2 separate regions of the Homo sapiens genome follow, and region 2 is linked to region 1. Evidence: fine-mapped expression QTL. Tissue or cell type: whole blood. Region 1 holds a variant in brackets; the other region holds the start of a gene. All regions are shown on one strand. Distances are from middle to middle.

Region 1 (8,181 bases):
TCTCCTGAGTACGCAGGACAATCGATGAAAAAACACCCACAGATGAAATTTCAGAATCCTAGGGATGACAAGACACTCCTAAAAACTTCCACAGACATAAAACCAGGACAAGTACAAAGGATCCTGAATCATAATAGCAGAAGACTTCAACAATAAACTAGAAGCTTGAAAACAATGAACCATTGCCTTTAACATTCAGAGAAAAAAATCATTTCCAACAAGTATTCTAAATCAAGCCAGACCCTTCAACAAGTATAAGAATAGAATGAAGGACTGTTTCCAGATAGTCAAAACCTATCAAAATTACCTCCTGTCATTGGAAGATGCATGTCACCAAAACAGGGAAGAAAATAAAGGGGAAAATGTGAGATCCATACAAACAGACAAGTACTGTATGATTCTCCTCATATGAGGTAATTAGAAGAGTGAAATTCATAGAAACGGAAAGTAGAATGATGGTTGCCAGGGCCTGGGAGGGAGGGGAAAATGGGGATTCAGTGCTTAATGGGTACAGAGTTTCAGTTTGGGAAGATGAAGAAGTTCTGGAGATGGGTGGTGGTGACAGTAAGCACAACAATGTGAACGTACTTAATGCCACTGAACTGTACGCTTAAAAATGATTAAAATGGGCCAGGCGCGGTGGCTCATGCCTGTAATCCCAGCACTTTGGGAGGCGGAGACGGGTGGATCACGAGGTCAGGTGTTCAAGACCAGCCTGGCCATCATGGTGAAACCCCATCTCTACTAAAAATACAAAAAAGTAGCCGGACATGGTGGCAGGCGCCTGTAATCCCGGCTACTCAGGAGGCTGAGGCAGGAGAATCGCTTGAACCTGGGAGACAGAGGTTGCAGTGAACTGAGATCGCGCCATCACACTCCAGCCTGGGCAACAGTGCGAGACTCCATCTATTTACCACAATAAAAAATGTAAAATGGGCAAGGCACATTAAAAATGGAAAATAGGTGTCTCACGCCTGTAATCCCAGCGCTGGGAGACCGAGGCAAGAGCCCAGGAGTTCCAGAACAGCCTAGGCAACATGGTGAAGCCCTGTCTCTACAAAAAATACAAAAATCAGCCAAGTATGGCAGCACGTGCCTGTAGTCCCAGCTACTCAGGAGGCTGAGCTAAGAGAATCACCCGAGCCCAGGGAGGTCGAGGCTGCAGTGAGCTGTGATTGCGCCACTGCACTCCAGCCTGGGCAACAGAGTGAGACCCTATCTCTAAATAAATAAATAAATAAATAAATGTTAAAACTATAAAGTGGCAAAAAAAAGTATACATATAAATTAAAAAGTGGCAAAACCTCGTCTCTAAAAAAATGCAAAAAATTAGCCAAGTATGATGGCAGACACCTGTGGCCCCAGCTACTTGGCAGGCTGAGGTGGGAGGATGGCTTAAGCCCGGGAATTCAAGACTGTAGTAAGCTGTGATCGCACCACTGCACTCCAGCCTGGGCAACAGAGCAAGATCCCATCTCAAAAAAGAAAGAAAGAGAGAAAGAGAGAGGGAGAGAGGGAGACAGAGAGACAGAAAGAGAGAAGAGGCAGGAGGGAGGGAGGGAGGGAGGGAGGAAGAAAGGAAGGTGGTATCCAAAAGAGAGAGGATTCACACAAGAAAGAGAAAAGGGAACTCCTAAGATGACAACATTCAGCAGTCCTGGGGAGAAACCAATCCAAGAGGGAGCAGTAGGATGAGGCACCAGGCAGATGTCTCTGAGGAATAAGAGAAAGAGACTGAGAGATAATCTAATAGATAATAGAGACTGAGAGATAATCTAATGTGTTGATCATATTGCCAGGAATTTTATAGGTCTGTTAGAGAGGAATCAGTGATATGTATCTAAAAACTAAGCAAATGAAGGTACAGTGGCTCAAGCCTGTAATCCCAGCTACTCAGGAGGCTGAGGTGGGAGGATCTCTTGAGGCCAGTGTTTCACACCAGGCTGGGCAACATAGCAAGACCCGGCCTCAAATAAATAAATAAGATGGTATGACACTTTTTTTTTTTGAGATGGAGTCTCGCTCTGTCGTCCAGGCTAGAGTGCAGTGGCGCGATCTCAGCTCACTGCCAGCTCCGCCTCCCAAGTTCACACCATTCTCCTGCCTCAGCCTCCCGGGTAGCTGGGACTACAGGTGCCCAACACCACGCCCGGCTAATTTTTTGTATTTTTAGTAGAGACGGGGTTTCACCATGTTAGCCAGGATGGTCTCGATATCCTGACCTCATGATCCGCCAGCCTTGGCCTCCCAAAGTGCTGGGATTACAGGCGTGAGCCACCGCGCCCGGCCATGGTACGACATTTCTTAAGGGAATCTGGACAAATGAATGAAAACTAAATATATGTACAACCTTTCACCTAGCAATCCAACATCTAAGGATTTATTCTAAGGAAATAATAGTATGCAAAGATGTACATTCAGTGATGTTTACTGTGGCACTGTTTATTATTATAGAAATAAATTGGAAACACCCTAAACACCCACCAATAGGAGACTGGTTTAATAAATCATGGTACAGCCACACAATGGAATACTACATAGCTGTTAAAAAGGACAAGGTAGATAATTATGAATTAACAAGAGATGACACTCAAGAGATACTATTAAGTGAAAAAAAGGTTGAAAGACAGTAAGTAGAATTTGACATAAAAATATTCATTTAAAAGTCTAGATGTCTATATGCCAAAATATTAATCTTTAGAGATAGAATTATGCAAACACTTTCAATGTCTCTGTACTGATTAAATTTTTATCAGATATTATATTATCAGGAAAAATCATCTAGTTCCATTTACAAAATGAAATAAAAGTAACCCCAAACCCTGAAGAATACAATCATACAGTTTACAAAACACCTTCACAATCATCATTCTGCTTAAGTTTACAAACATCCAAAAAAATAGAGATGTCTTACATTTTGTAGATGAGAAAACACGTTCAGAGGGAAGCAAATGGCCCATGAGCAGTGAAGTCAAGGTCCCAGGACATGATCGCAAGCCCCTAACTTGGTCAGCTCAGCATGGCTTCAGTGCATCTCACTGACTGTCTCTGTTGGCTCCAGATAAACCTGTCAGAACCCTATGAACTCCCTCTGCAACCCAGAAAAATGCTATGTGGGCAGTTCAGGAAATAGGAAACCAAATCAAGGTGATCAGAATATCAGGGGGAAGATGTGCGCAAATGATATGGTTTCAGGAAACCACCAAAGCCGTCTCTTTATGTCACCCAACCCTCATGCCACAGGGACATAACCAACTTTCCAAATGGACCTCAGCCTTTGACAATCCGCCTGCCTCATGGGCACAGAGGGTCCTCAGACATCAGGAGCCCCCCATTCTGGCATCTCTCAGGCAAACCCTCATGTGGCCCAGACCTTCTCCAATCAGCTCTTTCCTCCCAATGTACCTGGTCCTGTGTCTCAGGCCTCAGCTGATCAGATCCACGGCAGCATACGGGGCCCACGCTGAACTTGCTGACACAAAGTAGAAGTCAATAGGAAGAGTGAGAATCACCGTCCGACCAAAGATACGCAAGGATGGGAAATGGATTAGAGCCAGGAAGGCTGGGGCCTGCTGCCCTGAAGTGAGGCAACCCTGCCCGCCTCATCACTCAGCTGGGGTTGAGCAAGACTTCAGTGCTTCGGGAAGGAAAGAAGAAATTCAAGTTCTCAGCCAGGCCTTCAGCCTTCCCATCTCCCCTGCATGTGTAGTTTGGAAGCCACTGGTCTTCCAGACAGATGTCCTGTTCTCTCCTCCACTTTCCTGCCTTCATCCCCGTATTTGGAGGGTAAAGGCATGGGGAAGAGCTGTCACTACTTAAGGTGGGGAGACAGTGAATGCCAGTGTTGTTTGTCTCTCCACAAGGGCCAAGCACATAACATGGTACACAAGAGAATGAACTTGTCCCATAGCCTCCACCTGCCACTTGTAGCTGTGAGAACTTGAAACCGGGCACGGTGGCTGACACCTGTAATCCCAGCACTTTGGGAGGCCGAGGCGAGTGGATCACCTAAGGTCAGGAGTTCAAGAACAGCCTGGCCAACATGGTGAAATCCT[G/A]TCTCTACTAAAAATACAAAAATTAGCCAGGCATGGTGGCACACACCTGTAATCCCACGTACTCGGGAGGCTGAGGCAGGAGAATCACTTGAACCCGGGAGGCGGAGGTTGCAGTGAGCCAAGATTGTGCCACTGCACTCCAGCTTGGGCGACAGAGCAAGACTCCATCTCAACAAAAAAAGAACTTGAGCAAGTTGCTTTGCTCTCTGAGTCTCATTTGCCTCATCTATAAACGGAAACAATGCTGGTACTGACCTCATAGTATTTTGTAGGGCTTAAATGAGATAACGTGCGTAATTGGCTCCACCCAAGTCCAATTAGTCCCTTTAGCTGTTAGTGGTTGTCCCCTTCCAGCCCTATCAGATCTGACTCACTCCTTATGGCTTTATTAGGTCAGACACCCTGGTCTAAAGAGTCCCCTGAACACTCTTGCCTCTGCAGTGGCTGTAGGTCTCATGCATCAATTAGTCTTACGATCTAGAAGAAGCACCATTGTTAAGAAGGGCTAGGAGACCCTTCACTAATCATTCTTTTCCTTTTCCCGGGGTGATGTCTTTTCTCCCCAGGGTCAGCCGTGAAGGTAGGGGCTGTGTGGATTTGTCTCTGTATCCCCAGGGGCACTCATCAGAGCCCTGGAGGTTAAGTCCATAAATATTTGTGGATCTTAGAGGTTCATAGAAACATCACCCCTATTTAAAGCATGTGGGTAAACTTAGGGACCTGGGCTGAGGAATCCATAGCAGTGGGACTGAGGCTTTTACAGGATGTGGCAAAGCCATGCACGCAGGCAGGATCAGGGTGACACTTGGCTCCTCTTAGCTCCTCTCGCAAGTTCCTAAAGCTCCTAAAGATGTGAAATAGGGGCGTGTGTGGAAAGCCGCTGCTTGATCTGCCTGGAAATCCTGCCCACCTCCATCTCCAGAAGGAAGGCTGCTTCCTGCTTAGCCTCAGCACACTTAAATCCCCCTCAAAAGCAGCTCTTGGGTTTGCCACCTGCTAATCAAGGCACCTGACCTCTTCCTGGCTCTCTGTCCTCACCTCCTGACACCCTTCTTCTCAGATGATGGATATCCTGACAACTGAGATGGCATCCTCTTCACCCAAGCTGGAGTGCAGTGGTGCGATCTTGGCCCACTGCAACCTCCACCTCCCGGCTTCAAGCAATTCTCTGCCTCAGCCTCCTGAGTAGCTGGGATTACAGGCGCCCACCACCATACCTGGCTAGTTTATATATTTTTAGTAGAGACGGGGTTTCACCATTTTGGCCAGGCTGGTCTTGAACTCCTCACCTCATGATCCACCCGCCTCAGCCTCCCAAAGTGCTGGGATTACAGGCGCGAGCCAATGCACCCAACCCAAGATGGCGCCTTCTTAAGGATTGACCCCCACCACTTGCTTCCTCCAATTTACCACCCTGCCAGGGTAACCTGCCTGACTCCATACTGCTTTAGGGTGCCCCAAGCCTTGTTGAGGTTTACTATGTGCTAGCCACTGTGCAAGTGTTTTATGTACAATATCCTGCTTTAATTCTCAAGTAACTTTCTAAGGTAGAGGCTATTACTATTCCCATTTTACAGATGAGGAAACTGAGACCCAAAGAAGTCATGCAACTTGCCCAAGGTCATGCCGTGAGTGGGCTCACACTCTAACTTGTATTTCAGACATTTCTGTGAAATTGTGTTCACTCTGGTAAACCCTTTGAGAGAAGAGCCTGGATTTGCTTCTCTCTCACCTCCCATATTGCATAGAGATGGAACTTTACACAGCATGTTCTAACAAATTTTAGAACTACTGGGCATGAGTCATCACCAGGGAGCTTGTTAGAAATGCAGAATCTCAGGCCCCACCCCAGTTCTACTGAATCAGAATTTGCATTTTCACAAGAGAAGCAGGTGAGGGTTTGCTCATCAAAGTTCGAGACCATACTGTTCGAAACTGAATTGAATGGATGGTGCTCTACAGAGACACCCACAAGCCAAACAAGCATAGGAAAACAAAGCAAAAATACCTACAGGGCTCCTGATCTTGGGAACTGCACTTCCGGAGGAAGCACAGCGCAAAAAGTTAGGGCTGAGAGGTTCCCCATGCCTCACTCAGTTTCCACTTCCCGGTGCTCCAGCAAGATCTTGGCTGGGAGTCTGGATAGCAACGAGACATCTTTAGAGCGCCACCTGCTGGCCGTGATTAGGTATGTATCGCTCATTTCGGCTCCAGGCATTCCCTCTCAAAGCTGCAGCTCAAGGTCTGAGCCTTCTGTAACGGATCCCTTGGTTCTTTATTTCTGCCCCTTCAACACTCACCATTCACTATTCCTGTCGCTGGTTCAGATAACTCGTTACTCTCTAAATGGCAATGATGCAGCACCCCCATGTTTGCTTAGCCCCTTGACCTTCTCAATTGAGTTCAGCTCATTAGGCATTTGTTGAGCTCCTACTGGGTGCAAAGCATTACGACTTCAACAGAACAGCCTTCTCACGAGCGTCAAAGCAAGTGGTCAGTAAATAAACCAGGCTCTTAGTGTTCTGACTCAGGGTAAAACCACAAAGATTTAATACTGGTCCCTATAAGAAAGCGTTTGCAACATTCACATGGACATTCTTTTTTTTTTTTTGAGACAGAGTCTCGCTCTGTCACCCGGACTAGAGTACAGTGGCGTGATCTCGGCTCACTGCAACCTCCACCTCCCGGGTTCAAGCGATTCTCCTGCCTCAGCCTCCTGAGTAGCTGGGATTACAGGAGCGTGCCACCACACCCAGCTAATTTTTGTATTTTTAGTAGAGACGGGGTTTCACCATGTTGGTCAGGCTGGTCTCGAACTCCTGACCTCATGACCTCATTTAGGAAGGCACAACCTTCCTAAAAGGCAAATTTACAATATTTATCACAAGGCCTTAAAACAATATTATCCTTTGAGTTATCGATTCCATTGCTAGTAATTTATTTTAAGGAAATACCACCAATATATTGCAGTAAAAACACTTACTGCAGACTTTTTTTTTTTTTTTTTGAGATGGAGTTTCACCCTTGTTGCCCAAGCTGGAGTGCAATGGCGCCATCTCAGCGCACCGCAACCCCCACCTCCCGGGTTCAAGCGATTCTCCTGCCTCAGTCTCCCTAGTAGCTGGGATTACAGGTGGATGCCATGATGCCCAGGTAATTTTTGTATTTTTAGTAGAGACAGGGTTTCACCATGATGGTCAAGGCTGGTTTCGAACTCCTGACTTCAGGTGATCCGCCCACCTCGGCCTCCCAAAGTGCTGGGATTACAGGCATGAGCCACTGCGCCCGGCCAACAATTTTTATAATAGGGAAAAATTGGAAACAACCTAAATATGAATCAACATGAGATTAATTAAGCAAATTACTACATCTATTTAAAAAGAGGATCTAAAAGAATGTTTATTGGGATTAAAAGTTAACAATTGAAAAAAAAAAAAAGGTCCCAAAAGCATTCATACAATGTGACCTCATTTATCTTAAAAATAATTATATATCATATGTATAAATACAACTATACATTTTAACATAATTATATATTATATGGCTATATATATATATGCACGCTGGAATAAACACCAAAATATTAATGGTAGTTTTCTGTAGAAGTGGTGTACAGCTTGTATTGTGTGTGTGTGTGTGTGTGTGTGTGTGTGTGCGTGTGTGTTTATGTGTGTGTTAAAATTTTCCACATTTTTTTTCAATAGTAGTGCTATTTTTATCATCCGAAAATAAGATTGTTCTTACTCTGAACTCTGTCCCTGACCCGGGCCTTACCTGTCTCAAGAATTGAGGCCTCCTAGCTGTCCGGGAGGATTTAAGCCCTGGGATGAACACTGCCAACTCAGAAAATCCTCCAAGGCGGCCAGCTCACGTCAAGCACTGTTTCTCCAAATGCTGCCGTGTCCCTGAGAACAAACCTCTCCACTGTCTTGGTGGCTTCCCTCCCCCGCCTGTCCTGAAGCATCTCTGCCCCGGGAGTGGGTCACTTGACAACAGTGAGAGGGAATCCGTGAGGTGGGTGCCAGGAGTGCAGCCCCGCGCTGCCCCGGCTGGCACAAGCTTGGGCCATGACTCAGCCCCTTTCTGCTCACCTGGTGTCCCGCCCTGCTGTCTCCACTTCCTCCCC
Region 2 (8,181 bases), 24 kb before region 1:
ATTTTTAGTAGGACACGGTTTCACCATGTTGGCCAGGCTGTCTCGAACTCCTGACCTCGTGATCTGCCCTCCTCGGCCTCCCAAAGTGCTGGGATTACAGGCATGAGCCACCGCGCCTGGTCACATTCTTTATTTTCTTGCTGAATCTCATGTGAATTGAATGTTGACCACAACTTTTCTAATCAATAGGCTATTTTCATAACCCGCTTATTGGCCCCTCTAACAGTATTATAACCTATGTTGGATATCATTTACTAAAAGGACCATCATCTCTTCCAGATCAAAACAATTTAAAACATTTAACCAAGAATAAGTCATAGGAGCAGCATAGCATAGTGGTTAAGAGCCCAGACCGGGAAGCCAAACTGCCCAAGTCTGAAGTCAGACCTGGAAGTTCAGACTCGCTACTGATGCATCTACTCACTACTTGGGTGACCTTGGGCAAGTGACTTAATGACTCAGTGCCCCATTTCCTCACCTGTAAAATGGGGATAATCATTAGAATGAGCTTATGAAGTGAGCTAATATTTGTAAAGTACTTAGGACAGAACCTGGCACATAGTAAAAACCTAAATGTTCATCAAGCTATTAAAAATTGGTAGTTCGATAGCAGACCTTTCAAGTATGACCACAAAGTAAACAGGCTTCAAAATTTAAAACATGCAAATGATTCTTTAAAACTGATCATTTCAGGAATATATGCATATTCCAGTGATATCACCATTGCTGAAAAACATTTCCAAAACTTCTTTTTTGGAATAGCCTTTATGAGCCACATTAAGAACAAAGCAGGCGAACAAAGCAGGCCAGGCGCGGTGGCTCATGCCTATAATCCTAGCACTTTGGGAGGCTGAGGCAGGCGGATCACTTGAGGTTAGGAGTTCAAGACCAGCCTGGCCAACATGGTGAAACCTCGTCTATACCGAAAATATGAAAAAAAAAAAAAAAAATTAGCTGGGTATGGTGGCCGGCACCTGTAATCCCAGCTACTCAGGAGGCTGAGGCAGGAGAATCGCTCAAACCCGGGAGGAGGAGGTTGCAGTGAGCCGAGATTGGCCACTGCACTCCAGCCTGGGCAAAAGGGTGAGATTCCATCTCAAATAAAAGAAAAAAAAAAAGGCCGGGCACAGTGGCTCACACCTGTAATCCCAGCACTTTGGGAGGCCGAGGCGGGCGGATCACGAGGTCAGGAGATTGAGACTATCCTGCTAACATGGTGAAACCCCGTCTCTACTAAAAACACAAAAAACTAGCTGGGCGTGGTGGTGGGCACCTGCAGTCCCAGCTACTCGGGAGGCTGAGGCAGGAGAATGGCGTGAACCCGGGAGGCAGAACTTGCAGTGAGCCGAGAGCGCGCGACCGCACTCCACTCCAGCCTGGGTGACAGAGAGAGACTCCGTTTCAAAAAAAAAAAAAAAGAACAAAGCAAAAACTTCTTACTTTGTGGTCACACCTCATCTTTATTGCTTCCTAACTGGTATTATCCAGCTCTATTGCCCTACTTTTACCCATCAGATTTACTCTTTTTAAAAATCAGATTCTGGCCAGGCACAGTGGCTCGCGCATATTAATCCCAGCACTTGGAAGGCTGAGGTGGGAATGTCAGTTGAGCCTGGAACTTCAAGGCCAGCCTGGACAACATGCTGAAACCCCATCTCTAACAAAAATACAAAAATGAGCTGGGTGTGGTGGCATGCACCTGTGGTCCCAGCTACTCGTGAGACTGTGGTGGGAGGATCGCTTGAGTCCAGGAAGTTGAGGCTGCAGTAAGCTGTAATCACTCCACTGCACTCCAGCCTGGGTGACAAAATGAGACCCTGCCTCCAAAAAAATAAAAATAAAAATCAGATTATTTACAAATAATAAAATTTGCTACCACTGCAGATACTCAAACGACAGTTTCAGGGGCTGTTATACAGTCTGTTCAGTTTGCTTCAAGTTACACTGGGAGGATGTGTTCACTTATTTCAAACTATGTAACTGGAGATATTCAGGCTATAGAAAGTTAGCTAATATAGAAAACATACTGCTAAAACAATGCTCTAATGGTACATCCACAATTTTCTGAAGCTAGAATGAAGATAGATAATTATGTATTATTGGCAGGGCACGGTGGCTCACGCCTGTAATCCCAGCACTTTGTGAGGCTGAGGCAGGCGGATCACGAGGTGAGGAGTTCGAGACCAGCCTGACCAACATGGTGAAACCCTGTCTCTACTAAATATACAAAAATTAGCAGGGCATCGTGGTGCGCACCTGTAATCCCAGCTACTCAGGAGGCTGAGGCAGGAGAATCGCTTGAATCCAGGAGGTGGAGGTTGCAGTGAGCCGAGATTGTGCCACTGCACTCCAGCCTGGGCAACAGAGGGAGACTCCATCAAAGAAAAAAAAAATTATTATTCTCTGCCCGCCCCCACCCCATCTTTCTTTAATACCAGATCTCAATACGGACACAGTCTCAAAAGCATGACAATTTTTACGTAAAGCATTATCATACTGTGTATGACCTTCAGAAATCTAGCAACAATCAACTCATTTGAGTTTAAAACAGCCTGTCCAAAATGCCTTTTATTTACAAGGAAATTATTCTTTGTACAATGGTAAGAAAATCTATTTTCAATGATATTGTTTCTGGTTAACAGTTCTAAAATGGACTGACGTTAGAAGAGTTCTTTCAGAACTCACTGTTGGCAATATATGCCTTTTTACTGAAATTCTACTACTCTCAAAGGTGACATTTACAGAATTTTTAACTCTTCAAAGTTGATCATAAACACGGTCTCTCTTTGATTCTATCAGACTTCTTTTTTACTTTATGGAGTGCTCAGAAACTTACGTCAGAAGTAATTTTAAGCTTTAGTAACCAAATTTATCCCAGCATGGTTTAAAATGAAAACAAAAATAAGTTGTTTTGCAGATGTCATGAAAGCAAGATCTAAGTTTTACTAAGGTTCCTACTTATTTTAAGCTCTTTATCCAACTTCAATTTATTTAATTTAAAAAAATCAAAAGAACTACAGCTTCAGAAGATTTAGCAACTTCTATCTGGATCAAGTCAACCTCTAACCAGGGCTGGCCAAAGGTTTTGTTTCTCACGCACTCTAATTTTAAATAACAATAATTTTAATAATAATTCAGAAGAAATACTTCACTTGGTTTCCCTTTACTTCTCTTCAGCCCATGACTTAACGCTGCACTGTGCCCATCAACTTCACGATTTAGCAAAGCAATTAACCAGCAACTCCTGAACAAGCTTCACAGGAAGATTTTTCTCATGACTGAGCAGCCGTTTTTATCCTAGGTGAGTTTTCTCAAAAATAATTGAGTAAGTAATCTACCAGCTTCTGGCATATCTTTGGCAAGTCACATTTTCTGCCTTGTTTTGTAGCTGAGAAGGGTATAAAAATCCCACGAAAAGAAACCAGAACTCCGAGCCTAGAAATGTAAATTATGATCCAAGCTAAACCACTCACCAGTTGGTTGAACCTAAGTATAAATAATTACCCCCATCCCAGCTCCATTTACCCATCGAAATGGCGATAACATAATCAGTTGCAACCACAAGGTGATGCGGTTAGAAAAAGATAGGAAGAAGAGTGCTCTGAAACGTGTAAAGGTGCTACGTAAATAGAAGGTAATAATCAGTGGTGACAGAACTCTCACCTCCTTTGCAAAACTTAAAGGGTCATCTCATGGCTTACAGCAAGAAAAGAGTCGAGCACAAGTAACCCGAGCCCGTTGGTGACACTTTGCCGAACTCCAGGGGGAGGATGATTAGCAGTTCCGGGCGGGAGTCAGGAGAATGCCAATCCGAGCCCAACGTGGGCTGCTCGCGCTCTCGCCCCCCATGGGAGAGAGGCACTGAGAGATCAAAATGCAACCCCGCTCCAAGCCACCCTCGCAAATGAAGGAATTTCGAAGAGGGGGTAGGAGGAGGCGGGCTGGGCGCGCCGCTGCCACCTCCGACTGGGCCACTCCTTGCGCCGCCAGCGCCCCAGCCCACGGTGCCACGTCCCGGCCTCCGTCACCGCCAGCCCTCACCCTACCCGGAACGGGGCACATCTTCCGGAGGCCACCGGAATCGTTCCCTTGCAGGCGCCCCTGGGGGGCCACACATCGGACCAGGGAAGGGAGGGGACAGTTAGAGCGGTTGGAACAGTTGCCCCCAGGCTGGCCGCCCCGGAACCCGGCCCGGCCCGCCCCGGCGGAGCCTCAGACACGGCCCCGGGCCGGGAAGGCTCCCCAAGGGCAGGCCTCGGCGCCGCCGGCCCAGCGCAGCCCCTTAGGGAGCGGCCCCGCGCTGCAGGCTCACCTCCAATGTGTCAAAAGCGCATGTTCGCCGCCGCTCAACCGACGTCTCCCCTCCGCCGGCCCGGCCAGGCCCGCCCAGCCGCTCGGCTCAGCTCCCCTACGCAGCCCCGAGCTCCACTCAGCGTACCTCCGCGCCCGGCTCCTCCCCGACACGTCAGGGACTGCCTGGGTGTCCGAGGCCATTCTGTGACGCACGGGGGCGGGGCTCGGAGCATGCGCGGCAGCGCACGGGTATGCGGGGCGGGGTGGGGCGGGGCTGGTGTCACAGGGGGCGGGCCAGAGCCCGGCGCGCTGACGCCAAGCTGACGGCGTCCTCTTGCGCAGGCGTCCTCTTGCGCAGGCGCTCCTGGACTCTGCGACCGGCTGGTTTTGGCTTGTGCAGTTCCCTGAAACTGCTATTCGGGAGAGTGGTGCCAAGACGGATGGGAACCTGCCTTCAGTTTTCTGGCCACCAAGGCCCTTCAAGTGTCCATGTGTCTGTGTTCCCGTTTATAAAATGAATCTCGGCTCATAGTTCACCTCCGAGTCCATTCCCCCTGCTCGAACACCCAATGGAACATCAGGAGCATTCTAAGCATCACTCTCACAAAGCTCTGTGTTGTTTTTACAGAACTTCCACTGTTTACATTTTGTATTTGTTCTCATCTTCCTCCAGTAGAATTCTAAGTTCTATGAGAGCTAGAACCTCTTATGCCTTGCTCATCCCAACAGATAACTTGGTTCTAGGCAAAGTGGACGCTCAAATATTTGATGAATGAATGAATGGATTCGTTGGCACAAAGGGGATTTTATATTTGCCCATTTATATATTGTATATATCTGAGCATATATTCATTTTTGTATACATGCGTGTACGTGTGTGTATGGGTGTGACTTTCTCCCCTCCAGGTCCCCCAAGAAATGGAGTCCTATGTGTATATATATACCTCTTACAATCCATCTTGGTTTTTGTTTGTTTGTTTGTTTGTTTGTTTTTGAGACGGAGTTTCGCTCTTGTTGCCCAGGCTGGAGTGCAGTGGCGCGATCTCGGCTCACTGCAACCTCCGCCTCCCAGGTTTAAGCAATTCTCCTGCCTCAGCCTCCCTAGTAGCTGGGATTACAGGCGCCTGCCACCACGCCCGACTAATTTTTGTATTTTTAGTAGAGACGGGGTTTCACCATGTTGGCCAGGCTGGTCTCGAACTCCTGACCTCGTGATCCGCCCGCCTCGGCCTCCCAAAGTGCTGGGATTACAGGCGTGAGACACAGCGCCCGGCCCCATCTTGCATTATTAATGTTTATATATTTTTAGTACGTAAACACACACGTGTATGTGTGTGTGCGCGCGTGTGTATTCCCTAGCGGACTTGGAAGCAAGCTGGAGACGATACTAGCCCAAAAAGGAGGGAAAGAGGGATAGGCAACTTACATAGGGAGTGGAAACTTAAAGGAAGAGATACATTTTAAAAACAATTTTAAGAACTTTTGCTGTATAATGTACAAGGTAATCCTTTCCTTTAGGAGATGGGGTCTACTGTGTTGCCCAGGCTGGTCAAGAACTCCTGACTTCGGCCAGGCGCTGCAGCACTTTGGGAAGCCGAGGCGGGCAAATCACCTGAGGCCAGGACTTCGAGACCAGCCTGGCCAACATGGTGAAACCCTGTCTCTACTAAAAGTACAAAAATTAGCCAGGCATGATGGTGGGCACCTGTAATCCTAGCTACTCCGGAGGCTGAGGCAGGAGAATCGCTCGAACCCGGGAGGCGGAGGTTGCAGTGAGCACCACTGCACTCTAACCTGGGCGACAGAGTGAGACTCCGTCTAAAAACAAACAAAACAAAACAAAAAAGAACTCCTGACTTCAGGCAATCTTCCCACCTCAGCCCCCCACAAAGTCCTGGGATTACAGGCACCAGCCTCCATGCGGCACGCAATGTAATCCTTTCCAATTTCAGTGCTTTTAGGATTGGATTTGTGGGTGTGAACACAAAAATAATGTGTAAGACATGCCTCAAGGTGAAAACAAAGTGAGCCTAGGAGGCCCAGTTTATATTTTTGAGGGCGATGGACATAAACAGGAACAATGCAAGATGGATTGTAAGAGGTACCCAAATCAATAAAGATCAGAGAAGGGATTAATGGGGTTTGTGGGAAAGGTAACATATTACATATGCCTATTATGAATAATATTATGAATAATATGCATATTATGAAAAAACTATGCATGGATTTCCAATTTTTTTTTTGCACAGGGCCAAGCATGGTGGCCCATACCTGTAATCCCAGCACTCTGGGAAGCTGAGGTAGACAGATCACTTGAGCCCAGAAGTTCGAGACCAGCCTGGGCAGCACAGTGAGACACCTGTCTCTAAAAAAATAAAATAAATGTTTGCACCAAAATAAATTTGTTCTAACTTGCTATAACATGTCTGAACAGGATCTAGCTTGAAGCACCAAGAAAGATAAGAAATCAGTTTGAAGAGAGTCCCTATCAGAACACATATTCTACAAAATTGAAGCAATACAAAATACTAAATTTATGGTGAAGCCTGGGTGGAAAAATGGTGGAATCATTGACGCTTTATAAAAGTGTAAAAGGACAAAGCCCCAAAAGAAGTCAGCAGTTTACAAATGGATAATTCATTTTAAGAAGAAACATGATGATGTTGAAGATGAAGCCCACAGCAGCAGACCCTCCACATCAATTTGTGAGGAAAAAAAGTAATCTTGTTCATGTGCTAATTGAAAAGGATCAATGATTAACAGCAGAAACAATAGCCAGCACCACAGATATCTCAACAGATTTGGCCTACACAATCCTTACTGAAAAATTAAAGTTGAGCTAACTTTCCACCCAATGGGTGGCAAAACCATTGTGCCCAGGTCAGCTGCTGACAAGAACAGAGCTTTCAAAATTTCACACATTTTAAACAAGTGGGATCAAGATCCTGAAGCTTTTTTTTTTTTTGAAGAATTGTAACCAAGAATGAAACTTCGCTTTACCAGTACAATCCTGAAGACAAAGCGGTGGCTACCAAGAGATGGAAGTAGTCCAGTCAAAGCAAAGTGAACCAGTCAAGAGCAAAAATCATGGCAACCATTTTGTGGGTTGTTCTAGGCATTTTGCTTTCTGGAGGGCTAAAGAATAATAACGTACTTATTACGAGAGTGTTTTGAGAAGATTAGCCAAAGCTTTAGTGGAAAAATGCCCAGGAAACCTTCATCAGAGAGACCTTTCCACCATGATAAAGTTCCTGCTCATTTCTCTCATCAAACAAGGGCAATTTTGCAAGAGTTTCAGTGGAAAATCAGTAGACATCACCTTACAGTCCCAATTTGGCTCCCTCTGAAGACTTTTTGTTTCCTAATCTTAAAAAATCTTTAGGCCAGGCGCAGTGGCTCATGCCTGTAATCCCAGCACTTTGGGAAGCCGAGGCAGGCGGATCACGAGGTCAGGAGATCGAGACCATCCTGGCTAACACGGTGAAAACCCGTCTCTACTAAAAATCCAAAAAATTAGCTGGGTGTAGTGGTGGACGCCTGTAGTCCCAGCTACTTGGGAGGCTGAGGCAGGAGAATGGCATGAACCCGGGAGGCGGAGCTTGCAGTGAGCCGAGATCGCGCCACTACACTCCAGCCTGGGCAACAGAGCGAGACTCTGTCTCAAAAAATATATATATATTGGCCTGCCATTAAATATATATATATTTATATTTATATTTATATATAATATATATATTTATATATAAATATATATATATATCTCTTTAAAGGGTAGCCATTTTTCTTCAGTTAATAATGTAAAAAAGACTGCATTAACATGCTTAAAATCCCCAGATCCTCAATTCTTTAGGGATGTACTAAATAAATGGCTGATATCATGGTTACGAA

What was found. PIP is the estimated chance that this variant, and not a neighbour inherited with it, causes the effect.
Region 2: NDEL1 starts here. The variant in region 1 is fine-mapped to the expression of NDEL1 in whole blood (INTERVAL, PIP above 0.99).

Annotation. Positions count from the first base shown.
Region 1 is chr17:8,408,494-8,416,674 of GRCh38, reverse strand. It overlaps a transcript of NDEL1 not described here. Among named protein-coding and RNA genes, the nearest start is that of RNF222, 15 kb to the right of the region's middle. RefSeq lists an enhancer at 6,090-6,384. The variant G/A (reference allele first, on the strand shown) is at 4,056.
Region 2 is chr17:8,432,177-8,440,357 of GRCh38, reverse strand. It overlaps NDEL1 (nudE neurodevelopment protein 1 like 1), which reads right to left and starts at 4,474. Exons shown (of 9, transcript NM_030808.5): 1 at 4,313-4,474. RefSeq lists silencers at 3,921-4,160, 4,201-4,400, 4,501-4,670.